3 separate regions of the Homo sapiens genome follow, and all the other regions are linked to region 2. The links come from fine-mapping of genetic effects on gene expression. A gene starts in region 2. Each other region holds a variant in brackets. All regions are shown on one strand. Distances are between the middles of the regions.

Region 1 (10,247 bases), 99 kb before region 2:
GGCCTCGGCCTCCCAAAGTGCGGGGATTACAGGCGTGAGCCACCGCGCCCTACCTCTTTAAAAAAAAAAAAAAAAAAAAAAAAAAAAAAAAAAAAAGATTGTTGAGAGAAATCAGCATGAAATTAATGGACAGGCAGGACTTTGAGCCTCTCCTTGTCACCGTGAATACAAGAAAAAGGAATCTTTGGTGCTGATGTAATAGCTTGAAAAGCAGTGAAGCCGCGGAGGGGTCAGAGCTCTGTAGCTCGGGAAAATGTTATAAAGCACTGCCCAGATTTGCCCAATGTACAGAAACTTCTAGACTCCTCTCAACTCCTCAAGGATAGACACGAGCCTTCTTTACCTCTCTGCCTTGCTCAGATCTCCCTGTAAAGCACTTTGCAAATAGTTGGTACAGACAAAAGCATTTGTTGCTTCAGTGAAAAGCTGACAAGTTTCCTAAAGAATAAATCAGCATGGTGTGTATTAGTTTCGCAAAAAGTTGGCTGAAAACCTCCAAGCTGCAACCTCCCTAGGCCACGTGTACGGCAAAGAAAGCAAAAGTTGGCCGGGCACTGTGGCTCATGCCTGTAATCCCAGCGCCTTAAGAGGCTGAGGCGGGTGGATCGCTTGAGGCCAGGAGTTCGAGACCAGCCTGGCCAACATGGCGAAACCCCGTCTCTACTAAAAATACGAATATTAGCTGGGCATGGTGGTGCATGCCTGTAATCCCAGCACTTTGGGAGGCCGAGGTGGGTGGATCACCTGAGGTCAGGAGTTCGAGACCACCCTGGCCAACACGGCGAAACCCCGTCTCTACTAAAAATGCAAAAATTAGCTGGGCATGGTGGTACACGCCTGTAATCCCAGCACTTTGGGAGGCCAAAGTGGGAGGATCCCTTGAGGCCAGGCGTTTGAGACCAGCCTGGCCAACATCACAAAACCCTATCTCTACTAAAAATACAAAAAATTAGCCAAGTGTGGTGGCGTGCCTGTAATCCCAGCTACTTGGGAGGCTGAGGCATGAGAATCACTTGAACCCGGGAGGCAGAGGTTGAAGTGAGCCCAGATTGCTCCATTGCACTCCGGCCTGGGCGACAGAGTGAGACTGTGTCTCAAAAATCAATAAATATATAAAAATAAAAAAAGAAAGCAAAAGCTGAAGGCTGGATTCATCCTGGGTGAATTACCCATCTCATTATAATGCAAAGTCCATTTTAAACCCAAGTTTCTGGCTGGGCGCAGTGGCTCATGCCTGTAATCCCAGCACCTTGGGAGGCCAAGGAGGGAGGATCACTTGAGGCCAGGGGTTGAGACCAGCCTGAGCAACATGGCGAGACCCCCATCTCCACAAAAAATAAAAATAATTAGCCAGGGGTGGTGGTGCACGCCTGTGGTTCCAGCTACTTTGGAGGCTGAGGCAGGAAGATCACTTGTCCCCACGAGGTCAAGGCTGAAGTGAACTATGATTGTGCCACTGCACTCCAGCATGGGTGATAGAGCAAGACTTTGTCTCAGGAAAAAATAAATTTTTTTAATTTAAAAAAAGTTTAGAACACCCATATTTCTAAATTGAAATAAATTCTTACTAAGCTGCAAAGTCTGTTTAGAGTTAAAAAAAAATAAGTCAGCCAAAAGAAAATCATTTAGTGCTGGACAGACCAAAAATAAAACCTGCCTGTTTCAATGAATCTTTCTCTTATCACTCAGATGCAATGGAGACAGCCGGTCTCAGACAAGCGAGCGTTTTAATTCAGAGAAAGGCAGAGAGAGAAGGTTCTGGAAGGTCCTTCACACTGCTAATCTCAGAGTAAAAATATCTTCTAGAGTTTTATTATCTTTTTTTCCAAAGACTGGGGGTGGGAGAGAATGAAATACACAGGTAGAAGGAGGGAAGATAGCCCATTTCGAGAAACAAGAGTGGGCATGGAGGTTGACAGGTGACCTTGAGGTGGGAGGAAGCCCTTGACAAGAAGAGGCATCATTTATTTTTTTTTTAAAGCAACGTAGGAGGGTGTTACTGGCCGGGTTTGAGAGATATGTGAGAATGCCCCCAGGCAAACCAAAAAGAAAAGTGTGTAGCTGTAAAACCAAAGAGATCAGTAGGAGGAGACTCGCCCGCCTGCGTGACAGGAAAAAGCTTCGAGAAGAATGGACGTGGGATCTCAGATCTGAACTGCGCACCAAGATACAGGGAAGAAAAAAGAAGGGGCCAGGCACAGTGGCTCACGCCTGTAATCCCAGACTTTGGGAGGTCAAGGCAGGCGGATCACTTGAGGTCAAGAGTTTGAGACCAGCCTGGCCCCCATCTACTAAAAATATAAAATTTAGCCGGGCATGGTGGCGGGCGCCTATAATCCCAGCTTGAACCCGGGAGACGGAGGTTGCAGTGAGCCGAGATCGCACCAAAATCATGAACCATCAGCATTGATGTCTCCAAATTGAGCCTGTGGCTCGACCAGCCTCCAGCCCAACAGACGCCACTCTCTCGGCATCCTCTGGCCCAGGCGGGAGGCAGGAAGTCCGACTCATCCCAACGCGGTGGTGATGGGGTGAGAGTCCCTGTCACCCAGTGAGTCAGTTTGCTTTGGGGTGACCAGTTGTCCTGGCCCTGGTTTGCTCAAGGCTATTCTAGTTTTGTTTTTTTTTTTTCTTGGTTTTGTTGTTTTTGAGACGGAGTCTTGCTCTGTCGCCAGGCTGGAGTGCAGTGGCACGATGTTGGCTCGCTGCAACCTCCACCTCCTGGGTTCAACCGATTCTCCTGCCTCAGCCTCCCAGGTAGCGGAGATTATAGGTGCCCGTCACCACATCCAGCTAAATTTTTTTTTTCTTTTGTATTTTAGTAGAGACAGGGTTTTGCTGTGTCACCCAGGGTAGTCACAAACACCTGAACTCAGGCAATCCGCCTGCCTCAGCCTCCCAAAGTGCTGGGATTACAGGCGTGAGCCGCTGCGCCCGGCAGCTATTCCAGTTTTAACCTGGAACCTGGGACATCTGGCCAACCTACCGACTTCCGTCTTCATCTGTCAGGAACCATCTGGAGCCGTGTGGGGGCCCCCAAGGAGGGACTAGGCAAGGACTTTGTTAGCAGAGCCACGAGTGACTGTGAACGAGTGAGCGACTGTGAACGAGGCAATAGCAATGTCTGTTTCCAGCCTCCAGATGAGGCCAGCTGGGGAGAGTCTTGGTTTAGGGCCAGCGTGTCCTTAATGCCACTCTGAGACCTGCCAGTGTCTGTTTTCAAACAGGAGTGAGCTGTGGGCTCAGAGCCTTCGCAGAGGACATCCGGGGCCAGGGAGTAGGGTGACAGGAGGTAGGTATTGGCCCTGGGAGAAAAATTAAAGTGAGTTCCAAAAACCTCGGTCATCAAGATACATAATATTGTCATGCATTTTTTTCTTTTTGAGATAGGGTCTGGCTCTGTCACCCAGGCTGAAGTACAGTGTTATGATCTCGGCTCACTGCAGCCTTGAACTCTTGGGCTCAAGGGATCCTCCTGCCTCAGCCTCCCGAGTAGATGGGACTACAAATGCATGCCACCACGCTGGGTTAATTTTTTTTTTAAGTTTTTGTAGAGACGAGGTCTTGCAATGTTGTCCAGTCTGGGCAATATATATATAAAGAGAGACAGAGAGAGAAAGCAAAAGCAAAAGAAAGCAAAAGCTGAAGGCTGGATTCATCCTGGGTGAATTACCCATCTCATTATAATGCAAAGTCCATTTTAAACCCAAGTTTCTGGCTGGGCGTGGTGGCTCACGCCTGTAATCCCAGCACCTTGGGAGGCCAAGGAGGGAGGATCACTTGAGGCCAGGGGTTGAGACCAGCCTGAGGAACATAGCGAGACCCCCATCTCCACAAAAAATAAAAATAATGAGCCAGGCATGGTGTAGCCTGCAACCTGGGACATCTGGCCAACCTACCCACTTTTTTTTTTTTTTTTTTTTTGAGACAGAGTCTCACTCTATCACCCAGGCTGGAGTGCAGTGGCGTGATCTTGGCTCACTGCAAGCTCCACCTCCCAGGTTCACACCATTCTCCTGCCTCAGCCTCCTGAGTATCTGGGACTACAGGCTCCCGCCACTGTGCCTGGCTAATTTTTTTGTTATTTTTAGTAGAGACAGGGTTTCACCGTGTTAGCCAGGATGTGTATATATTTTTTTGAAATGAAGTCTCTTGTCACCCAGGCTAGAGTGCAGTGGCACAATATCAGCTCAATGCAATCTCTGCCTCCTGGGTTCACGTGATTTCCTGCCTCAGCCTCCCAAGTAGCTGGGATTACACTGGTGCCCGCCATCATGCCCGGCTAATTTTTGTATTTTCAGTAGAGAAGGGGTTTCGCTATATTGCCCAGGCTGGTCTTGAACTCCTGACCTCAAGTGACCTGCCAGCCTTGGCCTCCCAAAGTGCTGGGATTACAGGCATGAGCCACTGCATTTGGGCATCCCCAGTTGAGTTTCTGATGAGACCACAGCCCAGCCAACACTCTGACTGCAGTCTTGTCAGACCCTGAGCAGAGGATCCAGCCAAACCATGCCCAGCCACCCAACCCACAGAAACCACAAAACCATGAGACAGTAAACAGGAGGTGTTTCAAGTTGCTACATTTGTGGTAATTTGCAGAAAACTAGGCCAGGTGCAGTGGCTCAGGTCTGTAATCCCAGCACTTTTGGAGGCTGTGGCAGGAGGATCGCTTGAGCCCAGGACTTTGAGATCAGTGTAGGCAACATAATGAGATCCCATCTCTAAAAAAAAAAAAAAAAAAAAAAAATTACAAATTAGCCAGGGTGGTAGCACACACCTGTAGTCCCAGCTACTTGGGAGGCTGAGGCAGGAAGATCACTTGAGCCCAGGAGGTTGAGGCTGCAGTGAGCTGCGATCAAGCCACTACACTGCAGCCTGGGTGAGGGTGACAGAGCAAGACCCTGTCTTAAACAAACAAAAGCTAATACAATCATTAACAGGCTTCTTAAATTTGACACTGACCAAACTGAGCTCTCATATCCCTCCTCAGTCTCCTCTTCACAAAAATGCCTGCTCCTCCCACAGTCTTCTCAGCTCAGACAGCAGCTCCACTTTCGTACTCACCCAGGTACAAAAAAATTTTTTTTAAAACCTGGGTTTGGCCGGGCACAGTGGCTCACGCCTGTAATCCCATCACTTTGGGAGATGGGTGGATCACCTGAAGTCAGGAGTTTGAGACCAGCATGGCCAACATGGTGAAACCCCATCTGTACTAAAAATACAAAATTAGCTGGGTGTGGTGGTGGGCGCCTGTAATCCCAGTTACTCTGGAGGCTGAGGCAGGAGAATCACTTGAACCCGGGAGGTGGAGGTTACAGTGAGCCGAGATCACACCTTTGCACTACAGCCTGGACAATGAGAGCAAAACTCTGTCTCAAAAAAAAAAAAAAGAATTAGCC[G/A]GGCATGGTGGCGTACACCTGTAATCCCAGCTACTCAGGAGGCTGAGGCAGGAGAATTGCTTGAGCCCAGGAGGCGGAGGTTGCAGTGAGCTGAGATTGCGCCACTGTGCTCCAGCCTGGGCGACAGAGTGAGACTCTGTCTTTAAAAAAAAAAAAAAAAAAAAAAAAAAACTGGGTTTATCCTTGATGCCCTGGCACATCCCAAACCCAGTCCATCCAAAAACGTTGTCAGACCGTCTGCAGGGTAGCTCTAGAATTGGGCCCCTACGCCATGTCTAGCCTGGTCTAAGCAGGGCATCGCCCAGGCTCACAAAATGCCACTTCCATCTTCCCCTCCCTGGGTCTATTCTCAACGGGAAGCCTCAGGGAGACAGCTAAGACCCGCGTCAGGTGACATCCCACCTCTGCCCAAACCTCCCCACAGCGACCGGGTCTAACTGTCCTCATCTCCAACCCCTCCCTCCTTCAGCCCCAGCTTCACTGGCCTCCTCGCCGATCCCCAAACATGCACAGCATGGTCCAGCCTCAGTGCCTTCAAAGGCACAGGCTGTGTCTCCTGCCTGACATCCTCAGCTATACCCTAATGTGCCCTTCACATTCTCTGCTTTTTTTTTTTTTTTGGTCTCTCAAATTTTGCAAACTGCACCCATGGGAGTAGATGGTAGGATGGTTTCTGCCACATGCAGAGCCTGGAACTGCTTAATTCCCATTTGTCTTCCCTTAACCATTGGAAAAGGGGAGCCAGGAAAAACGCAGCCGCCATGTGCAGTCTCTCCGTTCCGTAGCCTAATGCCTCCTGAAAGAGCAAGTTATTTCCCTCTGCCTCTCCGGCCCCACAAATCCAGAGAGTTACAATTTGATAACTATAGCTGGCACATCATTCCTCAAGAGCTGTAACACTGAAAAATATACCTTTAATAAAAGTAAGTGGATAAAGCCAGGCATGGTGGCTCATGCCTATAATCCCAACATTTTGGGAAGCTGAGGCAGGTGGATCACTTGAGATCCAGAGTTCGAGACCAGCCTGGCCAACATGGTAAAACCCTGTCTCTACTAAAAATACAAAAATTAGCCAGTCATGGGCTGGGTGCAGTGGCTCATGCCTGTAATCCCAGCACTTTGGGAGGCCAAGGTGGGTGGATCACCTGAGGTCAAGAGTTCAAGACCAGCCTGGCTAACACAGTGAAACCCCATCTCTACTAAAAATACAAAAAATTAGCCAGGCATGGTGGCAGGTGACTGTAGTCCCAGCTACTTGGGAGGCTGAGGCAGGAGAATGGTGTCAACCCGGGAGGCAGAACTTGCAGTGAGCTGAGATCGTGCCACTGAATTCTAGCCTGGGCGACGGAGCAAGACTCCCTCTCAAAAAAAAAAAAAAAAAAAATTAGCCAGTCATGGTGGTGCACACCTGTAATCCCAGCTACTTGGGAGGCTGAGGCAGGAGAATCACTTGAACCCAGGAGGCAGAGGTTGCAGGGAGCCAAGTTTCCACCACTGCACTCCAGCCTGGGCAATGGAGCAAGACTCCATCTTGAAAAAAAAAAGTACATAAGCATTTTCTATGTGACAGGTGTTGTATTAAACAATATTTACAGTCATCATCTCATTTATTGCCACATTTCTCCTATGAGACTGGTTCTATTCTGACCAAAGATGAATTGGAGGCACCGAAGAGTTAGGTAACTTGCCCAAGGTTATAGATGTGGTGGTTTTTAAATATCTCCAAAAATTATTTGCTATCCTCACCTAGCAGAGCCTAATTTCCCTCTCCGAGTGTGTGTTGGACTTATTGACTCACTTGTAATGAATAGAATATACCAGAAGCAATGGATCTAGGCTTCTGAGGTTAGATCATAGAAGCACTATGGCTTTGTTCTTTCTCTCCCTTGAATCACCAGCCCTGGGGGAAGCAAGCAGCCATGTTGTCAGGATGCTCGAGCAGCACTATGGTGATTCCCATGTGGTGAGGAACTGAGGCCTCCCACCAACAGCCACATGAGGACACCAGCTTTGAAGTGGCTCTTCCAGGCCCAGACGAGCTTTCAGATGAGGCAGCCCTGGCCCATGTCTTTTTTTTTTTTTTTTTTTTGAAATGGAGTCTCGCTCTGTCGCCCAGGCTGGAGTGCAGTGGCGCAATCTTGGCTCACTGCAAGCTCCACCTCCTGGGTTCACGCCATTCTCCTGCCTCCGCCTCCTGAGTAGCTGGGACTACAGGTGCCCGCCACCACGCCCGGCTAATTTTTTGTATTTTTAGTAGAGGTGGGGTTTCATCGTGTTAGCCAGGATGGTCTTGATCTCCTGACCTTGTGATCTGCCCTCCTCAGCCTCCCAAAGTGCTGGGATTACAGGCGTGAGCCACCGCACCCAGCCCCTGGCCCATGTCTTAACTGCAACCTCATGAGAGACCATGGGCCAGAACCACCCAGATAAATCACTCCCAAATCCTTGGCCCACAGAAACTGTGACAGAATAAATGTCTGTTGTTTTAATTGGCTAAATTTGAGAGACATTTGTTATGCAGTAACCAAAAACTAATACACAGGACGGCAGGTCCCAGGGCTCTTCTGTCTGGTGTTCCTTATTTACTTTTTTGGTTTTTGAGATAGGGTTTCACTCTGTCACCCAGGCTGGAGTGCACTGATGCTATCACAGCTCACTGAAGCCTCAACCTCCTGGACTCAAGCAATCCTCCCACCTCGGCCGCCTGAGTAGCTAGGACTACAGGTGTGCACCACCACACCCGGCTAATTTTTTAAATTTTTGGTAGAGACAGGGTCTCACTCTCTGCTTTTAATGGCCAATGTTTTCTAGTTGCTCAAAACCATGGTTCAACCTCTCCAAGGAGAAATTCAGGGGGTTCCCTTTTTTTCCAAGCAGTTTCAATAAAACCCAAAGGTTCACCTCAGCTTCATTCTTGAGCTTCTAAATTTCTTCTCTTCTCTTTCTCCATCTCTTTTTTAAAATTATTTATTTATTTATTTTGAGACAGAATCTCACTCTATCACCCAGGCTGGAGTGCAGTGGTGTTATCACAGCTCACTGCAGCCTCCAACTCCTGGGTTGAAGCAATCCTCCCACCTCAGCTTCCTAAATAGTTGGGGCTATGGGTGCACACCACCATGCCTGGCTCATTTTTTTAGTTTTTGTACAGATGGGGTCTTGCTATGTTGCCCAGCTGGTCTCAACTTCCTGTGCTCAAGTGATCCTCCTGCCTCAGCCTCCCAAATAGCTGGGACTACAAGCCTGCACCATCATGCCCCCAGCCTCGGTCTGGGCTCTTTAGCTGTCTTGCCCACCTGTCTGTGTAGTTTTTTTGTTTTTTTTGTTTGTTTGTTTGTTTTTTCCTTCACCTAATCCAAGATGATCACAGTTTTCGGACACGTCCATCCCATTCGATTCCGCATCTTTGGTCCCACGGCAGCCAAAGCCCGTTTATAGAACAGACAGCTGTTGTCTACGCCATGGCCTCTCTTATTTCTTCCTGTCCCCTGTCCTCAGGCCTGAATCTAGTCAGGAAATCCTCCCCTCCTCCATCGCCCCAACATCATGAAATAAATCACTCAGCAAGCCTACAGGAAATTTAATAAGCTTGGTCTCCTTTTTTTTTTCATTTTGTCTATGGTCTTTTTGTTAGGCTTTCATGGGAAGAGGTGTTTGTGAGAAAACTATTTGCAGCAATGGTATCTTGTGTTCTTTTAGCTTTATAATGTGGACAGAGGAGAAAGGAGTCAGTAATCGTGTGGGAGGGAAGACGCCGATAAACATGAGTGATACTAAGGGACCCAGAGGAAAACGCAGAGATTAAAAAATAACCTTCCAATCACTTATGAGTTGTATCATTTAAAATTAATACAGCTCCTAAATGCAATGTGGGATCCTGGATTGCAACGTAGAACAGAAATATTGGTGGGAAGACAGAGTGTGGCACCCACAGTCGTGCGTCAGTTTTGCTCTTTTTTTTTTTTTTGAGATGGAGTCTCGCTCCGTCGCCCAGGCTGGAGTGCAGTGGCGCGATCCTGGCTCACTGCAAGCTCTGCCTCCCGGGTTCACGCCATTCTCCTGCTTCAGCCTCCCGAGATTACAGGCGCCCGCCACCAGGCCCGGCTAATTTTTTTTGTATTTTTAGTAGAGATGGGGTTTCAGCGTGTTAGCCAGGATGGTCTCGATCTCCTGACCTCATGATCGGCCCGCCTCAGCCTCCCAAAGTGCTGGGATTACAGGCGTGAGCCACCGTTCCCGGCCCAGTTTTGCTCTTTGTTCTGTGGTCAAAGGTGTCAACGCAAGGGGACACTGGGTGGAAGGTGGGTGTGCGGGGACTCTCTGCACCATCTTCACAACTAAAATTATCCCCCCCAATTTTTTTTTTCATAAAGGTAAAGTGTAAACAAAACAACAAAGGGCTGGGTGCCGTGGCTCCCGCCTGTAATCTCAGCACTTTGGGAGGCCAAGGTGGGAGGATTCCTTGAGCCCAGGAATTCAAGACCAGCCTGATCAACATAGTGAGATCCCATCTCTGCAAAACAACAACAACAAAGGAAGCCTTATGCAGTTATGAGTGGATCACCCAGAATATGTTATCCTCTGCATCCATTTCAGAGCAACACACAGAAACATCAATGGCTTAGAACAGCCTGCAGGGCTGCGTCAACCATCAACTTCAATAAAACCCCAAGGTTCGCCTCAGCTTCATTCTTGGGCTTCTAAATTTCTTCTATTTATGCGTCTTTCATTCATTCATTCATTCATTCATTCACTTATTTATTTGAGACAGGGTCTCACTCCGTCACCCAGGCTGGAGTGCAGTGGTGTGATCACAGTTCACTGCAGCCTCCAACTCCCGGGCTCAAG
Region 2 (10,247 bases):
CTGGCTGTGTTGCGAATACCTGGCCGAGGCCACCGAGTCCTCGATGGGCCAGGCCCTGGCGCTGCTGTGGGACTGACCCCAACCCAGGGCGAACACACCTGGTCCAGGCCTGCCCAGGAGGCAGGGCTGGGGCTGAGGTCAGCGTCTCCATGATAGCCAAGACACCCTCTTCCTGCAGAGTCCAGGAGCGCAGCAGAGAGAGCAATGCCCCACTCCAGAGCCTCCCCTCCCGTGCTGGGGATGTGGGTCAAGGGCTTCCCAGGAATGCAGCTGCCCCTCCAGGGCTGGGGGCTGGCCAGCGCCTCCTGTGTTGGGCAGCAGCTCTCTGAAGCCAGGGCCCCCACGCCACTTCCAGGTGTGGACAACCCCGCTGATCAATGTCTCTCTGTGTTCTGCCTTCCCCAGCAGCCAGGGCGCTCTTCCGCGTGGGTTCTGTCATTGTCTCCATGAGAGGCCAATGCCGGGACCAGAGGCATTCCTGGCTCTGGAGCACCCCCTTGTGCTGAAGATGGCCAGTGATTTTGGGCATGTGAATGCCCCTGTCCCTGGTGGAGAATTGCTTGGTGGTGTCACGGGAAGGGAAGGCTCCCTGGGACCTTAGACACCCAGCTCATCTCAGCGGGGTCTGGACTCACCTTCCCTAAAACAGTCCCCGCGGTTCCCTGCCACCTCCCCTCAATCCCTCTGCGCCCACCCTGCCTCCCTCCCTGTTCCTCCGTGACACACCAACTTCTTTCGCGCCCCCAAGCATTTGTGTAGGCTGTTCCCTCTGCCATACTGTTCCAGTTCCACTTTCTTTTTCTTTTTTTTTTTTTTTTTTTTTTGAGACGATCTCGGCTTACTGCAAGCTCCGCCTCCCGGGTTCACGCCATTCTCCTGCCTCAGCCTCCCGAGTAGCTGGGACTACAGGCGCCCGCCACCACGCCCGGCTAATTTTTTGTATTTTTAGTAGAGACGGGGTTTCTCCGTGTTAGCCAGGATGGTCTCCATCTCCTGACCTCGTGATCCGTCCGCCTCGGCCTCCCAAAGTGCTGGGATTACAGGCGTGAGCCACCGCGCCCGGCTACAGTTTCACTTTCTCTAAACAAATAAAGGTGCCCACTCTGGGCCATCGCTAGCTCCTTACCCTGCGTTCTCCGCCCACTCTCAGGAGCATTTATTCCTCTGTTACTGTCCACAAGGCTGTGAGTTCCCTGGGGGCAAAGGCCAGGCTTGGCACACAGTAGGTGCTCACTTAATACCACAGGATGATGTAATAAACAGGCACAGAGGAGACTCACTGGAGGGGGATGGAGTCTTCCTTTATGCCTCTGACACACTGCACTGCCCTTGCCTGTGGCTTCCTTCCTGGAGACTCAGAGTTGCCCCTCCATTCCATTCCCCATGGCAGTCCTGGGAGGATCTTTCCAACCCCAGATATGAGGTCCCTCTCCAGCTCAAACACCTCCCATGGCTCCCCAGTGCCTCAGAATACATACAGGGCTCTTCCAAAGTCTCCTCAGAGTCTCCAACCCCATGTCGTTCATCCCTGGAGGTTACTTTCCAGCCTCCACGCCTTTGCCCAAGTTGTTTTTTACACCAGAAAACAGCCCCCTCTACTCTGCTTCATACTCCTATTCATCCTGCATGGCCTCAGCTCTAATGCCCCTTCTCTGCATTTGCGCTGCCCAAATGAGCTGGGGGTATCTGTGTCCAGGTTTGTCCTCCCGGCCGACCCCACCACCGCTCAGACGGCTGAATATCCCCCCGGCCCGCTCGCCAAGTCTACAATCTTTTCGAGTTCCTCCTTTCCTCCTCTTTCCAGCCGGTTTCCCGGCCAGGCCTGGCCCTGATTTTCCGGGTGGCGCTCCCGGATGCGGCCGGCAGGTGGCGCTGCGGCCGGGCAGACGGCGGGGTTGCAGACCCGGAAGCGCTCCAGGCCACGACCCCGCCGGAAGTGCTGCTGCCCCGAACGGCGCTGCAGGTCCCTAGGGGCGGCCAGTAACACGGCGAACTCAAAAGTTGAGTTGGGAGCACAGACATCCCCATGCGCAGGCCCAGGCTGGGGCGGAAGGGGACGCGAGGCAGGAAGGGGCTTCAAGCGAGCAGTGGCAAGGCTGGCGCCAAGCTGAGGGCCCGGCCTCCCAGCCCAGGGGGTCTCCTCCGTGGGAGGGGTCCCGCAGCTGCCTGGGTGCCAAATCCCCCGCGACCCCTCCACCCAGGGCCCTCTGTGGTCCCAGGCACTCCTCCCACCAGTCCCCAGCGTCACCACCACAGAGCCAGGTGCATCGGGTGTAATCACTTTATTGGCTTTTGGAGAGCAATGGAGGGGATTAATACCTCATCTTTCCAAGTTAAAAGACTAAGACTGTTTCCAAAAGACTCCAAATAAGAAACTTCTCCTCAAAGTACAAGGATAATCTGAATCATCTTAAACCAGCAATAAAAAAGTAAAATATAAATTTTTATTTAGAATTAAAGCAAATACTTCAGTATCACAAACACAATATTAAACTTCAAGAAATACACCGCTAATTCGGAGTGAGCGTTTATTTGCACGATTACAACATGCGGACAAACCCAGGCGAGATGAGCGAGTCTACGGTTCCTACCCACCCGGCTGACAAGGGGTGGCCCCAGGGGCCGGATGCCCAGCCCCGAGGCGGCCCTACTCCTCCTCCTCTCCCGAAGACTCTCTCTCGAACGTGTAGGCCATGAAGCAAGCGTCGGGTCTCTTGGGGACAAGGGGATGCCCCGGTCTCACAATCTCAAAGCCCAAAAAGCTGAAGGTTCGGAGCAAGGCGGCTGCGGGGGAGAAGCCGTCAGAACCCCTGCCGACCAGAACCCCCCGCCCGCACCCCCCACCCCCGCAGGGAGACCGTGCCTGCGGGCTGAGAATGAAGGGGCGGCGCAGGCACCCCCACGCACCCTACTGCAGGCGATACGGGTCACCTACCTCTGTCCTCGCGGTTCTTGTGGAAGCAAATGAAGACATGGTCGGCTCGCAGCTGCTCCTCAGCGAACTCCAGGAGAACTGCAAAGCTGCAGCGAGTGTCAGCGTCTCGGCTGGCCCGACCCACCTGCCTACCTCCTGGGCCTTAGCAGCTACCCTGAGGCCCGCTCTACTCCAGGGTCCCCCTGGGGCCCAGATCGTCCTCTGGGTGGGGCCGTCCTGACACCACAGTGTTGAGCAGCACCGCTGCACCCACCCACGTGCATGCCCCATGACAGAAAAGCTCTGACACTGCCTGGCATCCCTTGGAGGGTAGAATCCCAGGGTACGAATTTGGAGTGCACTTTTTAAAAAGGGACCCCAGGCCGGGAGCGGTAGCTCACGCCTGTAATCCCAGCACTTTGGGAGGCCGAGGTGGGCGGATCACGAGGTCAGGAGTTCAAGACCAGCCTGGCCAACATAGCGAAACCTCGTCTCTACTAAAAACACAAAAATTAGCTGGGCATCGGTGGCGGGCGCCTGTAAGCCCAGCTACTCGGGAGGCTGAGGCAGGAGAATCGCTTGAACCCGGAAGGCAGAGGTTGCAGTGAGCCAAGATCATGCCACTGCACTCCAGCCTGGGCAACAAAAGCAAGACTCCATCTCAAAAAAAAAAAAAAGGGGGGACCCTGTCCCCACCAACAAAGCGATGGTGGCCCCCATATGTGCTGCCTGAAGGCAGTGCCCTCCCTCATCTGTCCCTGCACCCCTTGGGCAGCAACCCGCACCTGGTCCCTGCTCCCCTGGGTGAGCACTCCCCGCCTGTCCTTGCCCCTCACCTGGTCCCTGCTCCCCTGGGTGAGCACTCCCTGCCTGTCCTTGCCCCTCACCTGTCCTTGCTCCCCTCGGGCAGCGCGCCGCCCGGGATCTCGATGTAGAGGCTGCCGCCACTCAGCACTGTTCGCCAGTTAATGCGTTTGGCGTCTGTGAGCCTGGACTGGACGTTGAGAATCCTCGTCTTGTCGTTGGACGTTAGTTCCTCTGTTACATTCAGCCGATCATCCTGTCCAGGGGGTGCAGCCCAATTCAGAACCCTGACTCACCCCACAGGACTCCAAGAACCCGGCAGCGCTAAAGCTTGGGCCTAGGCCGTGTTGAGCTCAGGCAACGCCTGGGCTGCAGGAGACTGTGCGCCGGCTCTGATGAAACTCAGGGTTCCCACGATTACATTCAATCACAGGTACGGGCAGCAAGGTGCACAAGAAAGTACCTGTGGCCCCAGAGCAGCCCCAGCAGGCCCGGCCCCATACTCACGGAGTAGAATAAGTTAGCTGAAAGATTGTGATCCCTCTGACTATTCCCTCGCCCACCTGGGATCTTCAGGGGTGGGTGAGGGGCATCAGGAGCACCACCGAGGCCCCGGACCCGGGTTACTACAGCAGTGGAGGGAGACCCTGGAACTGAAGATGATGCAGGTCACGAGGCAGCGCCAGGCTCCGGGCGGAGACCCCTCCAGGGCGTCCGGGCGGCCTTCAGCACATCCCCACCCCTGCCTCGGCCAAAAGACCCCGCCCCGCCCAGGCAGGGGCCCACCCGGTCCCACACCCCCGAGGCTTCCCGAAGGCAGCTCCAACGCCTGCCCCAAGCACCTACAAGGGCAGCAGTCACTGAGCCCCGACTCCTCGGGCGGCGCCGCCCAGGACAGCCCAACCTTCCCAGGGCGGGGGGCCCCTTCCCCTCACGCAGCCCCGCCGGGGCAGAGCCTCACCCCCCGGCCACCAAGACAGCCAGCGCTTCCCCTTTTCAGTTCTGTCGCGGCTTCCCCTTTCCACCCTGCACTACGGCCAAAATCTGGGACTCTTGCTTGTCCCCGCGAAGACCGGGCGGGCCTAGCCTGACCTCATGGAGGACGCGCCCCGCTCCGGCTCCCGGCCGCCCGCCCCCCCGCCCCCGCTCCAGGCCCGGGCCCTCCCGGTTGCGTCATCCAGGCAGACGCGGCCTCGCGCCCCGGGGGAGATTTTCACAATCGCGCAGCCGGCAGCGCCAGCAGCCATTTGCTGCGCAGGGTAAACAGGCCCCAAAGTTGCCTCCATTTTGCACGGCCCCCAAACCGCGGCACCGCCAGCACCGCGGCCCAACCTCCCGATCCGGGGCTGAGCGACGCCCACCTCGGGGGACGCAGTCGGGAAAGCTCGACCGAGACCCCGCGGGCTCCCCCACAACCGCAGCTGGCACCCGCGCCCCCGGAAGCGGGACGCGTCTTCCCGGGAAGCGGCGGGGGTCTTCCCAGGGCGCTGCCGGGCTGTCGGAGTGCGCCACCCCCAGCTCCCCGGCGGCCCCCGCGGAGAAGCCCTGGGTGCCGTCTACGTGCGCGGCCTCGCCCGGCGCGTCCCGGGCCATCCAGACCGACTCGCTCAGGGGCGAAAAACGGGGCCCACGAGGTCCGTCGCGTGCAGGGGCCACATCGAGGCAACAGGGACCCGCGGGAGCTCGTCCACCGCAAAGCGCTCCCCGCTCCCGCAGCGCACGCTCGACGGCCGGGACCGAAAAGTGCAGATTCACCAGCCCCGCGGGCCCTGCCTGTCCGCGGACCAGCCCCCCAAGGCCGACCCCGCCCCCAACCAGATTGCCCCATCCTGCGCCTCCCAAATCCGACCCGACCGCACACCCTTCCTCCAAACCGAATTCCCAGTCTGCGCCCCGCAAATCCAACCCTCGACCAGAAGCCTCTCCCCTCCTCCGAAGCCGAGTCCCATCCCGCGAACCCCGCAAAAGACACACGCCTCCCCCGACTCCCCGTCCTGCGCCCAAATCCGACCTCCGACCCATGCCCCTCCCGCAAATCAGGCGCCCCGGACGGTGCCCCCCAAATCCAACTCCGCACCCTTGCCCCCCAAACCCGACTCCCCCGAGAGCACTGCTAAGGCCGGGGGGGACCTCCAGGCCCGCCCTGCGCCTACCTCGTCCCCGGCGCGATTCTGGCCTTGACAAAGGGGCGGATCTCGCGCGCCGGGGACCTATCTGGCGCCCCGAGGACGGCCCCCCGCAGGCCTGCGCGGCCGGCGCTTCTGGAAGCTTCGGACGGGGGCGGGGCACTTACCTCTCACTGCTGCTGCCGCCGCGGCTGTGCAGGCTTAGGAGCGGCATGGTGCGGCTGGCGTGGATGGTGGCGCTGGGTTTATCCCCTTCCTTCTCTCTGGCGAAGCAGTGGCTATTGAGGATCCGCTGCAGGGAGGATTTCACCATCCGGCCGCTGGGGTCCGAAACCAGGAAAACCTCCGCTGCGTCTCTCCGCGCCGCCGCCGCTGCTCGCCGTTCGCAAAATGGCGCCTCTGCCGCCGCCCGCCTTTATAGATGCTGCGCCCAGGCCACGCCCCCCGCGCCGCCGGGAACGCGACCGCACGAGGGGCAGAGCCGCGGGGCCGCCGGGAAAAAAAGTCGCGCCCGCCCCTCCCAGCGCCTGATTGGTGAAAGGGAAAGGGAAAGGAAGAGGCTCTCTGGAGATTGGTTGGTGAGCCTCGGGCCACGCCCCCTCCTGCGCGCGTCCTTCTGGGGGCGGGGCTGCCGTGGCGCCGGGTACGCGCTGCGCGCGCCCCGAGCCGTCCCCGCCCCCACAATCGTGCCTTGGGGGCGGGGGCGGCTCGCTGGGGCCGATTTTCGGGGGTCTTCGAGTGCCCGTTTGTCTGTCGTGGTCCACGTCGCCCTCCCTAGGGTCCCTTCACGCAGCGGGACCCCTCCCCTGGGTAGGCCCCCGGGTGCTTGGGGGGTTGTCCAACCGCGCCAGAATTATTTCCAGTAACACCTGGTAATCATCGATGATATTACTGGTTTTATTTTTTTAAATTTGGTCTTGCAGTTCTTAAAATGCTTCCAGTGTTTAAAAAAAAAGAACTTCCAATGTTAAAGATATTCAAATTTAGTAAAATATTTCGTGTACAATTTGGACTTAAGCAAAAATTTTACTCCTTGCAGATAAATTCAGATTTTTCCTGTGGAAACTGAAACTTACCCTAAGGAAAAACACTACTCCTGGCAGTTAAAATTCAGAAACACATCTCATGTATGAACTAAAATGTGGATCTCCCAAGGAAAAAACGATTTCTTTGGTGGTCAAGTTCGGTAAACTGTTTCGCCTGTGAGGTAAAATGTGGACTTACCTAGCAAAAATATTTCCCCTCCTGGTTAAATCCAGAAAAAAAATCTCAGGTATGAACTGCACTTTGCTTTTAATAAGCAAAGATATAACTCTTGGCAGTCACATACGGGTACATAGCTTGTGTGTAGACTAAATTATGAATTTAGCAAAAAGTTGCCACTTTGCAGTGAGGTTTAATAAAATATTTTTTATTTCATGTATAAACAAAATTTTGTTCTTACCAAGCAAAAATGCTACTCCTGGCAAATCCTGATTCCTTTCATGGTTTTAATTTTGTTTTGTTTGCGACCGGGCCTGGCTGTCACCCAGGCTGGAGTGCAGTGGCGCAATCTCGGCTCGCTGCAACCTCCGCCTCCCAGGTTCAAGCGATTCTCCTGCTTCAGCCTCCTGAGGAGCTGGGATTACAGGTGCCCGCCACCACGCCCGGCTAATTTTTGTATTTTTAGTAGAGATGGGGTTTCACCATGTTGGCAAGGCTGGTCTGGAACTCCTGACCTCAGGTGATCCGCCTGCCTCGACCTCCCAAAGTTTGGGGATTAACAGGCGTGAGCCACCGCGCCTGCCTGTCTTTCGAGATTTCGTACTGCACCAGAAGGCTGTTGTTGCATCTCTGCTACGAGCATTCGCTATTCAGGTGTTGAGGCAGAAATTAACTCCTGCGGTTGACATTTGGGGCCGCCCTGGGCACTGCAGGGCGCTGAGCAGCGTCCCTGGCCTCCACCCACTCCATGCCTTGAGCACCCCCAGTTGTGACAACCACAAGTATCCGCAGACATCACCCAGTGTCCCTTGGCGGGGGCAGAATCACCCTGGGTGAGACTCCCGAGTTAGGGGATTCCACGGACCCCCCCAAGAGACTCTGCATCCCATGATCCTCTGCCCTGCTGAGGTCCCAGGAGACTGCGCACGTTGAAATCCACACCTTGAGGCAGAGGTTGCAGTGAGCTGAGATGGCGCCGCTGCACTCCAGCCTGGTGACAGAGCGAGACTCTGTCACAAAAAAAACAAAAAAAAAGCAATCCACACCCTGAGTGGGGAAGGAGAGAGGAGAAGCATCCCAGGAGCTGGGGGCCTCCTGGTTTATACCGTTTGCCCCATTAGGAGTTTATCCTGAGGCTGGGCACGGTGGCTCACGCCTGTAATCCCAGCACTTTGGGAGGCCGAGGCGGGTGGATCACGAGGTCAGGAGTGCAAGACCAGTCTGGCCAACATGGTGAAACCCCGTCTCTACTAAAAATACAAAAATTAGCTGGGCATGGTGGCGCGTGCCTGTAATCCCAGCTACTCAGGGGGCTGAGGCAGGAGAATTGCTTGAACTGGCACCCGGGAGGTGGAGGTTGCAGTGAGCCAAGATTGCACCACTACACTCCAGCCTGGGCTACAGAGCGAGACTCCATCTCAAAAAAAAGGAGTTTATTCTGGTGTCTGGTGTGAGCAGAGAACAGACTCTGTTTCAAATAATTAACTCAGGGTCTCCTCCCTCGGACCCGTGGACATTGGGCTTGGATTGTTCTCTGGGGTGGGGCATCCTGGGCAAATGGTATGAACCAGGAGGGCCCCAGCTCCTGGGATGCTTCTCCTCTCTCCTTCCCCACTCAGGGTGTGGATTGCTTTTTTTTTTGTTTTTTTGTTTTTTGAGACGGAGTCTCGCTCTGTTGCCAGGCTGGACTGCAGCGTCCTGGGCACTGCAGGGTACTGAGCAGCGTCCCTGGCCTCCACCCACTCCATGCCAGGAGCACTCCAAGTCATGACAACCAGAAATGTCCCAAACATCATCCAATGTCCCTTGGGGGCAGAATGACGCCCCTAAGTTGAGGACCTCCTCTGGGAACAGAGGCAAGAGCCTGCTCGAAATGAACAGGTCACCGGTGCGATTTCCAGAACAGCCACGACCAGGGAGCCCCATCCCTCCATCCTGACTGCAGCAGCTCTCACTTCCTCCTCCTGCCTGCCTCTGATGGCCGCCTGCCAATGCTGTGAGGCTTCTAGAAGGGCCACCCCCACACTGGCCAGGCCACGTGGGATGAGCGCTAGGATCAGCAACTGCGCCCTGCTGGCCCACCTGGCCGGGTTCCCCAGAAACTCCCCAGGGTGGGAGGTGCTTTGCTGGGAGCTGGGGAGTCTGTGACTGGTGAGGGGCCTCCCGGACAGCAGGGAGAGAAAGAGGCATATCTTTCTCTGGAGGTGGTGAGGCTTGAACTGTCTGAAAGGGACAGCAGAGGATGTGGGGTGGTCAAGGATAGAGGGCCCATGCCTGGGTTTTCTTCTGAAATCAAGGTTGAGGGGATACGGCTGCTGGCAGAGGACGCAGAGAGTATGACTCTGATTGATTGATTGATGGACTGATTTTTTTTTTTTTTTTTTGAGACAGAGTCTCACCTGTAGCCCAGGCTGGAGTGCAGTGGCGTAACCTTGGCTCACTGCAACCTCCACCTACAGGGTTCAAGCGATTCTCCTGCCTCAGCCTCCCGAGAAGCTGGGACTACAGGCGTGCACCACCATTCCCGGCTAATTTTTGTGTTTAGTGGAGACAGGGTTTCACCATATTGGCCAGGACGGTCTCAAACTCCTGACTTCATGATCTACGTGCCTCCCAAAGTGCTGGGATTACAGGTGTGCCACCGCACCTGGCTGTTTGGTTTTTGAGACAGAGTCTCACTTTGTCACCAGGCTGGAGTTCAGGGTCATGATCTCGGCGGCTCACTGCAACCTCCCCTTCCCAGGTTCAAGTGATTCTCCTGCCTCGGCCTCCCAAGTAGTTGGGAATTACAGGCTCACGCCACCAGGCCCAGTTAATTTTGGTATTTTTAGTAGAGACGGGATTTCACCATATTGGTCAGGCTGGTCTCGAACTCCTGAACTCAGGTGATCCACCCATCTCACCCTTCCAAAGTGCTGGGATTACAGGCGTGAGCCACCGCACCCGGCTGACTCTGATTTAAAAGAGGGTATGTGGGCCCGGTGTGCACTTTGGGAGGCAGAGGCAAGAGGATCGCTTGAGCTCAGGAGTTCAAGACCAGCCAGGGCTACATAGCCAGACCCCATCTCTGCAGCAAATTTAAAAATTAGGGACATGGTGGTGCACACCTGTAGTTCCAGCTACTCCAGCGGCTGAGGCAGGAGGATCCCCTGAGCCAGGAAGGTCAAGGCTGCAGTGAACTATGGTCTCTCAACTGCACT
Region 3 (10,138 bases), 42 kb after region 2:
CTTTTCCCCAGCTACGAGTTCATGCGGAGAAGCCTCATCTTCTACAGGAACGAAATCCGGAAGGTGACGGGCAAGGTGTGTGCAGGGCTGCAGAGGGCCGGGGTGGGGCTGCAGGTGGCAGAGGCAGTCCTCCAGCCCTGGCTCATGGCCACCCGTCCTCCCCACAGGACCCCCTGGAACAGTTCGGCATATCCGAGGAGGCCAGGTTCCAGCTGAGTGGCTTGCAGGCGTGAGCGCAGGGCACGGTGGTCAGCGTGCAGCGGGACGGGACTGGCCCTGCCCAGCCATGAATCGCTTGGCCATGCCTGGATCTGTTTTGTTTTGGTTTTTGGTTTTTGGGTCAGGGTTTCACTGTGTTGCCCAGGCTAGAGTGCAGTGGTGCCACAGCTCACTGTGACCTTGACCTTCTGGACTCAAGTGATCCTCCTGCCTCAGCTTCCCAAGTAGCGGGGATCACAGGCATGAGCCGCCACACCCGGCCATCACACCTGGATTTTCAGTGGGAGGTTTTTGGTTTGGAGACATCCAAAGCCTGAAGCCAGGTGGGTGTGGGCAGGGGCTGCATTTTATGAAACTGCCCAGCAAGCTGCGCTCCCTGGGGCCCCAGGATCCACCTAACTGGCCTGGCACCTGGTGCCACGTGCTGCTGCCGCCAGGATATGCGCCTTCCCACAGGTGCCCTGCCTGAGTTGTGTGCATCCAGGGGCCTGGTGAGCCCCCAGGCTGGTGGCATGGCCCCCCTGCCCCGTGCTGAATGAATGTACAGAGCCAGACAAAGCTGTGAATGGCCTAGGGGCTGAGTCCCACACCAGCTGTGAATTCTCCTGCAGACAGGAGGGCCCTGGCTGTGCACCTGGGGAAGTGGTTGCCCTGGGGCCAGGGTGCTTGTTCTGTTCAAATAAAGGTACCTCTTTTCCACACTGGATGGCGGTGAAGTGAAGGAGAGGGGAGGGGCAGCCAGGGAGCCCCCACCCAAGGGAAGTAAGGCTCAGGGTCCTGAGAGGCAGTGGCTGGGCCTCCTGCACTGAGGGGAGAGCTAGAACCCCCAGCCAGGACAGGTGGAGGCTGGGACCCAGGCCTGGGGAGAACAGAGCTGCTGTGTGGTATCAGGAATCCTGTGGTGACCTGGGGTCCTGCCTCTGGCATTCACGGGCCCTCCCGGAGTGTGGCTGGGGCCTGGGCGGGCTTTGGTCCATCTGATGTGAAAAGGACTTTGCCGATGTCATTGGGGTCGCAGATCTGGTTTTCCGTTCATCAAAAGGCACTTTGCCTGTGGCCTGGTGCCCTCATAAGCCTCCCCTTGCCTGTGGCCTGGTGCCCTCATAAGCCTCCCCAAGGCCAGGGTGTCCTGGTGTCAGCCCCCGGAGCTTCTGCTAGGAGCACCCCTAGGCCCTCCACTCCCCGTTTCGGCGATGACACACTAGCCGGGGCCTCTCACTGGCCGCCAGGAGACGCCTCATGCCACCTGGAAGAAAGGCTGCCATTCACACCAGGTCCGAGTGAAAACAGTCTGTTTATTACAGCGTCTAGAGGTGGGGATGCAGAATGCAGGGGTGCCCAGAGGAAGGGGCGCCTGCAGCCCAGGGGCGGACCGTGACAATGCGCGCAATCCAAATACAGTTCACCCGGAAGACACGGCAGAGCCTCCCACGTTACAAAGGCTGACACAGACCAGCAGCGTGTTGTGTTGGGAGGGGGGTCTGACCACGATGGCGAGGGCAGTCGGCGGGGGGTGGGGGGCCTGCTGACCACTGAACAGACTGACGCATCCTGGGGGCAGATAAATTAAGGGGGAAGTCTTAAATAAGTCACTGTGCGTGCCTCATGGGCCGAGGAGGGGGTATCCTAGTTTTTAGGGTTCCTATCAATTCCTGAGCAAGAGCCACTCCCAGGCGCCGCCCGCCCACCCACAGTCAGCAGCAGCAGCACAGGTCCCCGCCAGCTGCCCACGGAAACTCAGGCCAGGTGCCAGCACCAGGCTCCAGATCCCCAGTCTCCACAGCCACCCTGCCACCCGCCACACACCACCCCTCAGTCTGGGAGTGTCTGAGAAGAACACAGGCCCAGGGCTCAGAACAGGAGGGTGTCCGCAGGCAGCCACCACACTAGTTCACGTGTGGTGACACGCATATGACCCAGTGGGCTCAAGGAGACTTCTGCCTGGGCCAGTGGCTCTGAGACCCAGTGCGTGTCCTGAACATACGGTGGCCTGCGTGGGCAGGAGCCCTGCATGGCCATCTGCAGGACCCGTGATGGCACCCGGACTGCCACTGTCACCTAGAGGGAGGCAGAAGTAATACAGTGTTTAAAGAATGTGTCTTGTTCTAGACCAGGGACTCGGCCGTCTCTGCCATCAACCCTGTGGCGTATCCGGCCCGTGGCGACACAGAGCAGGCTGCCTGTCCTGAAGGCCAGGCTCGGGGCTTGGGGCTCAGGCAGAGGCACAGCACCTTCTAGCTGAGAGCACCAACGTGGGGTGGGGAGGGCACTGGGCACCACTTAAGAGGACAGGTCCGGAGCACCATCTTCAGAACTCAGCTATGTTGGAGGGTGGGGGTCTGAGAGGTTGTTGGGGGCTGGGGGAGGCAGCACCCCCCTCACCAGGCACAAGCAGGGGTCTTCAGGCCCTCCCACACAGGACTCCCCCACCTAGCAACCACAGAAGCCTTTCCTCCGTGGCTCCCTTTGGAGGCCACGTGGTAGGGATGTGACGTGTGTCCATCCTGCCCTTGGGAACCAGAACACAGGGCTGGCAGCTCCCTGGAGGGTGGATCTGTGGCACCTTGGGGAAGGGGCTCCCCGATGCCATCTCACAGGAGCAAGCACTTGAGAAGGTGGGCTCAGCAAGTGCCACACAGCCCAGGGCCAGATGCGGGGAGCTCAGACTCCCAGATCCCATCCTCCAGGGAGGGCACAGAGCCACCACTGCTCAGACAACCCAGGCCCTGACTGCTCAGGGCTCCAGAAGCACTGGAGTGGCCCTGCCTGCCTGCTACACCCCGGCCTCAGCTCCTCTCCTTCCACACCCAGTCCCAGGCACCCGCCAAGGCTGCAGAGTGGGGGGCCGACGTCACCCTGGGGCCTAGGGCCAGAGAGGCCAGGTTTCAGCAGTGCACCCTGGCCCCAGCACACCCACAGCAGCTGGGAGAACCAGCACAGGCTCCAAGGGATGGGTGCCAGGCGTGGCCCTGACAGGAAGGGATGTGGGGCAGGCAGGGGCGCCGGCAGCTCTGTCTGGGCTGCTGGGAGCTGCAACTGAGGGGTCTAGGGTCGGGGCTGACGCTGGGGCCATTTTGTGCACTGTTTGAATAAATAAGGTTTTTTCCCCTCGCTTTTCTTTCCTCTTCACTGTGCATTATACCATCTAAAAATAAAAGCTGTCAAATCTATGAAATTTATAAATTCTCATCACATCTCTATAAAATACTGCCACTCATTAGTGTGACTCTCTCCTGTACAGAAACACCAAGGGACCCACGACAGGCCTGCCCCGCATCGCAGGGCATGCTGCGAGCCATGGACAGCCGAGAAATACAAAAGTAAATGCACTTGTTCAACGTGCCCGCGCCGTCCTCACAGCACCATCGCGCAGCACATGGCCAGCTGCGTCACCGCGCAGGCCCCTTCACATGCAAGGGCGCAACCCACGCCCCGGAGGGTGAACAGTCTGGGGGTTCACAGTGCCGGGGTAAAGGTGAAGAGCTCAGGGCAGGCGCCAGGGCGCTCAGGAAGGGGCTCAGGCCGCGGGGAGGCCTCCGAGGAATGTGGTGGCGACGGGCCTGCCTTTGGTACGGGAGCAGCGCGTCGGGGGAGCCGGCCGGGCGGCGTTTCCGAGAACGGGGTTCGGCGTTGTCAGCGTCTAGTCAGCACCAAGCGGGTGGAGGCAGGCGCGGGCCTGGGGACGAGATAGCACCGGGGCAGGCTGTGGCGAATCCGCTGGCGGGCCCGCCCTGCAGACACGTGTCTTTATATAGAGCTCTCATATATAGATATTTATATTTCTCAATAAGTTGCCTTTTACCACTTAGATGGAATAAAATAAGTCAGAATTGTTTATACTTTTTAAAAAATGATAAATACTTTATCTAAAACTATCGACAGTACAAACTGGACCAGTCCCAGCCTCCTGCGGCGCGTGCCGCCGATTCACAGTGGAGCTCCCGTCCGTCCTTGCCTCTGCCGTCCAGGGGTGGGAGCCCGGCAGGCCGGCGGGCACCATGCCGCGGGCGCGAGTTGGTCCACACCGTCCTTGCATAGGTCTCGCGGTTGAGGTAGAAATCCTAGTTACCTGCAGAAGGGCACAGCGGGAAGAGCGGCCTGAGGTTACCATCGCGCCTGGGGGAGCCCAACACTCACCCAGGCTGGGGACCGAGGCCTCCCACGAGCACACACGCCACCTGGGGCCAGCACCATGACAGGCATAGTGCCAGCTCCTCTAACCACAACAGACGACGGGCGTGCCCCGTGACAGACCAGGGAGCCTGACACCTGGACACGCCGGCCAAGCTCCAGCCTTCCTCCAAAGGAGACACACAGCCGAGTCCAGCTAAAGCCACCCTACCTGCAGCTCATCTCCTAAGAGACCCAGCATAGCTTGTCCAGCCC[G/A]CAGGTGCCCGCATTGACCCGCCAGGCTGACCAGCCCTGGCCACAGCCTCCGCCTTGGCTCCTGGCTCCCAGTCCTCCTCTCCTTGCCCGGTGGGCTTTGGACTCGCCCAGGAAGGCCTGTGTCCCAGGGGCCCCTGAGGCAGAAGGCCAGGGGCAAGCAGAGGGCACCTTTGCACTACGCCGCCAGGCACGCCATGTCCCTGGAGGGCACGGGTGGCCAACTGCCCTCAGGGGTCAGCGGCCACAGTCTCCACAGCCTCTTGGGGGAGGAGTGAACAGGACATTCCCTGAAGGCCTCACATCATCAAAATCACTCCTGCTTCCAACTTCCTTCTGGTCTCAAAGGTGGGCACCGTCTACACTAACCTGCCCAGCTTGGTGCTGACATCTGAGCAGCTGAAAGCCCCTCGGCTGTGGGCCATGACCACAGGGCAGTGTGGCCATCAGCCGTGTCCAGCAAGGGGGCCTCAACACGCAGGGCACAGAGCTTGCCTCTCGACCCCGCCGGGAACCCATCAGCCCCCAGGCAGGCAGGGCACTTGGGGCTTCACTGGCTCCCTATGAGGGCATCCGAGGCTACTGGCCAGACAGCCCCGACCAGAGGCATCCAGCCAGCCACCCTGGCTCTCCAGGACCTCTGCAGCCGGCACCGTGCCTGCTACATGCTGGGCGCCTGGGGAACAGCACCAAGCCACGCCACCCGTCATGAGTGACCTGGGCCTGGTGCGGATGGAGCCCTGGAGACTGCTCTAGGAGCTAGAGCTCCCAGCCCCCTGGCCTGGCACCCCGTGAGCCTCGCCCACAGGGGCTGGCACAGCTGCCCCCAGGGCTGGCCTCAGTCCTGCGGCGTCACCGCAGGAACCCAGCTGCGGGCAGCTGGAACCCAACACACTCAGGCCACTCCATGGCTGGTGCCCGTCCTGTAGTCCCTCCTCTCGCGACCATCTCCCTGGTCTCCCTGGCTCTCTCCCTCTTCCCTCCTCAGGACCCCCGGAACTTCTGCCGAGCCCTGTGGCCGTCTTCTCTGCCAAAGGAAGGACAGTTCAGTGTCTGGAGTGAGCCACCGCGCAGGGCTCTGGCCTTACCTTACACAATACGCACTGCTAGCTAAGCAAGGTCTTTATCGCGGCTTAACCCCCGAAAGGTGCGCGGCATAGGGAGGCGGCATGCCGAGGGACACCCACACCGCGGACGGCCCCGTGGCGCTGGCCTGTGGGATCCCGGGCGCGGCCTGGGCCAGGGCCAGCCGGGGCAGGGGCTGGTGGTGCACCGTGAAGGAGGGGCGGGCGCCCTTGTGCGGGAGGGAGGTGAGCTTGATAGACAAAGAGGCGTTAGCAGGCGGCAGAGAGGCAGCAGAGGTGGGGGGCAAGAAAGCTTGGTTAGGCGGGAGGGACGCGAGGCTCTGCAGAAGCGCGGGCTCAGGGTTAGAGGCCAGCAGCGTTGGGGGAGGAGGCAAGGCGGCGTTAGGTGGAGGGGGGGCGTGGAGGACGGGCGGCCCCGCGGGGGACCGGCCCAGGTGCGCAGGCGGGGGCAGCGGGGGAGGCGGAGGCGGAGGCGGAGGGGGCGGCCGGGTCTCAACCGAGGCCGGGGCCTGAAAGGAAGAGGCCGAGGCGCTGGCCGCCGCCTGCAGCGGGCTCGGGCCCAGTGTGGCGCTGCCACATGCAGCCCCGCGGCCGACACGGGCTCCAAACGGATGAGCAGAGGCGGAGGGCACCGCGTGGTTAAAGACACCTGCAAATAGGAGAGAAAAACGCAGCTTCAACAAGCGGCAGCATCCAGGCAAGCGCAGAGCAGCAGCCGCAGGCTCACAAAAAGGGAAGCGAAACGGCGCCGCCAGGCGTGTGCGGGCACCAAGCACAAGCAGCGGCTCGGCCAGGCTCGTGGTGGCCCGCCCTCCGCCCTCCGGCCCCCCGCCCCGCAGCAGCCCCAGGGCCAGGCCGCTCCCCCCGGCGGCTCCTCTCCGCCCTGTCTGGGCAGGCACTGCGGGGACTCGCTCTTACCCAACACCAGCTCCCAGAGCCTTGCCAGAGCCCGGGCGGCCACACCTAGCAGGTGACCTCCACGGGAGAAAGTAATGCTCTGGTGGCCCTGCGCACGGTGGCCTTCTGAAAACAAGAGGGACGCGGTTACAACCAGAGAACCCAAGACACACGGACTCAGCGTGAGCCCTCTCCCCACAGGACTGGAGTTCGCCACCGTGCACGGATGGCGGGGGCCGGCCGGCACCAGGGGACCTGCAGCTCAGCTCCTGCTGCAAGAGAGTGCGGAAGGGAACCTGCAAAGGAAGGGGCCTCCGGCGGGGGCCGGGGCGGGGGGCGGACGGACGGCCGCCCTGCCTACCTCCAACTGTGCCGCCTGCCACCCCGGAAAAGCTGCCCATGGCGTGCGAGTTGGTCAGTCTGGTGGCAGCGGACGACACGTGCACCAGGCCTGCGGCGGCCGGCACAGAGCTGAACAGCGACTGCAGCACGGAGGAGCCGGCCACGGAGCCGAGGTTGGCCTGCAGGGACATGGGGCCGAGCGCGAACTGCGGTCCCGGCGGGAAGGGGCCCAGGAAGGACCGGTGCGTCTGGGCGGAGGACGCCGCGCCGCCTGCGGAGGACGCCGCCGGGGCCAGGCCGGGGCCGCTGAGGAGGCTTCCGGGAGGCACGGCCGCCGCAGAGATGAAGAGGTTGTGGCCATTCTTGAGGTCGACCTCGCGGTCCCGGGCCTTGGCGGCCTTGCCGCTCAGCAGTGGGGTCTTGTCCGTGGGCCCGCACAGCGGTAGGCCGCCCTCCCCTGCCTCCTTGCCGCGGCTGCCCTCGCCCTTCAGCCCAGCCAGGCCGTCCAGCTGCCTCTTGCTCAGGAAAGGGTTGGCGTCCGAGCCCTCCTTGCCGCGCTGCGAGGGGAAGCTCAGCGGGGAGCTCAGGCCGGCCGCCTCGGGGCCCTTGTGGGGAAGAGAAGCACCATCACTGAAGCTGTGTAAACTCAGGTCCGCGGCCAGGCCCCCGCCGAAGGTGCAGCCGTTGGCAGGGTTGGTGCCCGGGCTGAGTCCGTCAGCCCCCGACAGGGAGCCGGGAAAGCCTTTCCTGGGGTGAGCGGCCAGCTTGGCATCGGCAGAGGGCTCCTCCAGGGCGGGCCGGAACGTGAACAGGGAGTTCTGGCTGAGGGCGGAGCTGGCCTGCAGCGGGCTGTCCGCCGACTTGGCCAGGCCGATGTCGGAGATGGGCGAGAAGGTGGACTTCCACTTGCTGCTATTGACTGGCTCGCCGGCGGGCGCGGGCTTCCTTCCCGCCAAGCCACCACCTGGCAAAGAGGAAAGGCAGAAGCCGTGAGCCCAGAGCACCTGCCCGGGCTACCCATGAGGCTAACCGGGGCTGCTGCCACGGCCCGGGCAACTCTGCAGGCAGGGCTGGTCACAGACACTCAAGATGCCAAGCGGGACAGGATGGGAGAGGACAGGAGGGAAGGGGACGGGAGGGGACAAGATGGGATGGGACAGGAGGACTACAGCACAGGATGAGATGGCAGGGGACGGGACTGGATGGGACAGGAGGGCGGAAGACAGGACAGAGGCAGCTGAAGCGGGTCTCAGAGGCCATGCGGGATGAGCTCTGGGGAAAATGCTGAGGTCAGCAGCCTGCGGGAGGGAAGGTGGGGCTGCCCCAGAGCAGGTCAGGGTCCTCACTGAGGACGCAGGCACCACTCGGGGGGAAGGCCAGGGTGCAAAGCAAACAGGGGACCCAAGGTGACGATCCCCGCAGGTCAGCCACCCACTGTGAGAGCATGGCGTGTGCGCGGAGGCCCTGGGCTGCAGTGAGGGCCTCCCAGAGGCAGTTCTGGAAGCCCAGCGCCCCCAGTGTCGGCGCCCACGCAGGACACGACGCAGCAGGCCAGCACCACGCAGGACACGACGCAGCGGGCCAGCACCATGCGGGACACGATGCAGCGGGCCAGCAGGTGGGTCAGCAGCACTGACTGGGCACCACGGCCACACGGACAGGCCTGGCCACGCCGCAAAACACTTGTTACTCACCATTTTCCAAGGTTTTCGGGGGAGATTTGCTTTCTAAGGAGATTGTTGCAATTTTTCTCTCAATTCTGTTAAGAAAAAAAGGTCATTAATGCTTGAAACCCAGCTGCATACTAAGAATGACACAAATGCTGACAGCCAACAGCCCAGGGAGCTCCGGAGGTGGTGAACGAGAAGCACTCGGCCCAGACAGGGGACCCGTGCAGCCACCCTGGGCCAGGCCTGGACTGGGTGGCTGGGCCCTGGGATCCACCCCTGTTGTGCCACAAGGGTACTGTCCTGGCAGGGACTCCAGGGCCTCTGCTGGGACAAGCAGCCAAGAGATCAGGCACAGCAGCTGAATGGGAGAAGCAATTTCCCAGCACACAGAAGTGTGAGAATCCCAGACAGAGCTCTCTTCCTACCTCCCTCTCCCGGCCCCTCTCAGACCTCGGTGCCTCAGGTGGCAAACAATGCCACAGCATTGCAGGCCAGCACGTGAAGACATGCCCAACCACACACTGCATGGGGTCGCTTTGATCCAATGTCCCAAGAACACACCAGGGACACACAAATTCCTAAAGATCCTGGAAACCACTAAGCTGAGCAATCCCAATGCAAAACAGAGCATCCAGGTGCTACAATGTTTCTCGTGTAACACGTGCACGCACACGTGGGCAAGGAGCAGAACGAACTAACACAGAACACCACCAAAAGCACACTTAGGGCCGGCTGTGATGGCGCACGCTGGGAGGCACTGGGAGGCAGAAGGCTTGAGGCCAGGAGTTTGAGACCAGCCTGGGCAACATGGCAAAACCCGATCTCTATAAAACAAAAAAACGAACGAGGCACGGTGGTAGCGTGTGCCTGTAGACACAACTACTCAGGAGGCTGAGGCAGGAGAATCACTTGAACCCAGGAGGCGGAGGGTCAGTGAGCCGAGATCGCGCCACCGCACTCCAGCCTGGGCCACAGACCAAAACTCTGTGTCTCAGGAAAAAAAAAAAAAAAAAAGCAAAAAACCCTACCATGTTATATCACTTCACGACGACTCGGATGGCTAGAATCAAAACAAGAAATTCAGTGTGTTGAGGATGTGGGGACTGAGGACCTCAGACCCTCGTGCACCCATGGTGGCAGGGTGGAATGGTGTGGCTGCTGGAGAGCCCAGGGGGCCGGGCCACCCAGCACCTCCGCCCAGGCACCAGGAAACGGGAAACTTGCTCCCAAACACAAACACGCACACCCATGGCCACAGCAGTGCTGCTCACAACCGCCCAGGGTAAGCAAGCCTAGCACGGAGGGCGGATGGATGGTGGAGCACCACCCAGCCACGACAGGGACCGAGGATGCACCTTGAGGACGTCACGCTCAGTGAGAGATGCCAGACACAAAAGGCCACATCCTGTGTGACTCCGCTCCTAGGAGGTCCCTAGAGCCCTCAGATTCAGAGACAGAAAGTAGGATGGGGGCGGGGGGTGCCAGGGGCTCTTGGGAGGAGAAGGGGAGTGAGTGTTTCAAGGGGATGATGAGATTTTCTCA

What was found. PIP is the estimated chance that this variant, and not a neighbour inherited with it, causes the effect.
Region 1: its variant is fine-mapped to the expression of OAZ1 in whole blood (INTERVAL, PIP 0.99).
Region 3: its variant is fine-mapped to the expression of OAZ1 in whole blood (INTERVAL, PIP 0.96).

What each region holds. Positions count from the first base shown.
Region 1 is chr19:2,364,098-2,374,344 of GRCh38, reverse strand. The region is part of intron 1 of TMPRSS9 (transmembrane serine protease 9); the gene reads right to left. Among named protein-coding and RNA genes, the nearest start is that of TMPRSS9, 9.0 kb to the right of the region's middle. The variant G/A (reference allele first, on the strand shown) is at 5,400.
Region 2 is chr19:2,265,509-2,275,755 of GRCh38, reverse strand. OAZ1 (ornithine decarboxylase antizyme 1) reads right to left here and starts at 6,270. Exons shown (of 5, transcript NM_004152.3): 1 at 6,012-6,270; 2 at 4,226-4,371; 3 at 3,802-3,974; 4 at 2,936-3,021; 5 at 2,268-2,784. The coding sequence starts at 6,157. The coding sequence ends at 2,648. It overlaps LOC105372240 (a long non-coding RNA gene), which reads left to right and starts at 6,503. Exons shown (of 2, transcript XR_936242.3): 1 at 6,503-6,654; 2 at 6,884-7,263. It overlaps PEAK3 (PEAK family member 3), which reads left to right. Exons shown (of 4, transcript NM_198532.3): 4 at 1-1,125. The coding sequence ends at 76. RefSeq lists enhancers at 1,510-1,649, 3,090-3,149, 3,160-3,219, 5,957-6,571, 9,067-9,236 and 1 more and silencers at 2,030-2,279, 2,740-2,889, 4,429-4,768, 4,779-4,978, 5,189-5,248 and 1 more.
Region 3 is chr19:2,223,935-2,234,072 of GRCh38, reverse strand. DOT1L (DOT1 like histone lysine methyltransferase) reads right to left here. Exons shown (of 28, transcript NM_032482.3): 26 at 8,621-8,685; 27 at 6,946-7,890; 28 at 1,495-4,288. The coding sequence ends at 4,281. It overlaps PLEKHJ1 (pleckstrin homology domain containing J1), which reads left to right. Exons shown (of 6, transcript NM_018049.3): 5 at 12-75; 6 at 168-920. The coding sequence ends at 233. It overlaps MIR1227 (microRNA 1227), which reads left to right; the gene lies at 1-11. Among named protein-coding and RNA genes, the nearest start is that of MIR1227, 5.1 kb to the left of the region's middle. RefSeq lists an enhancer at 7,704-8,210 and a silencer at 10,032-10,091. The variant G/A (reference allele first, on the strand shown) is at 4,606.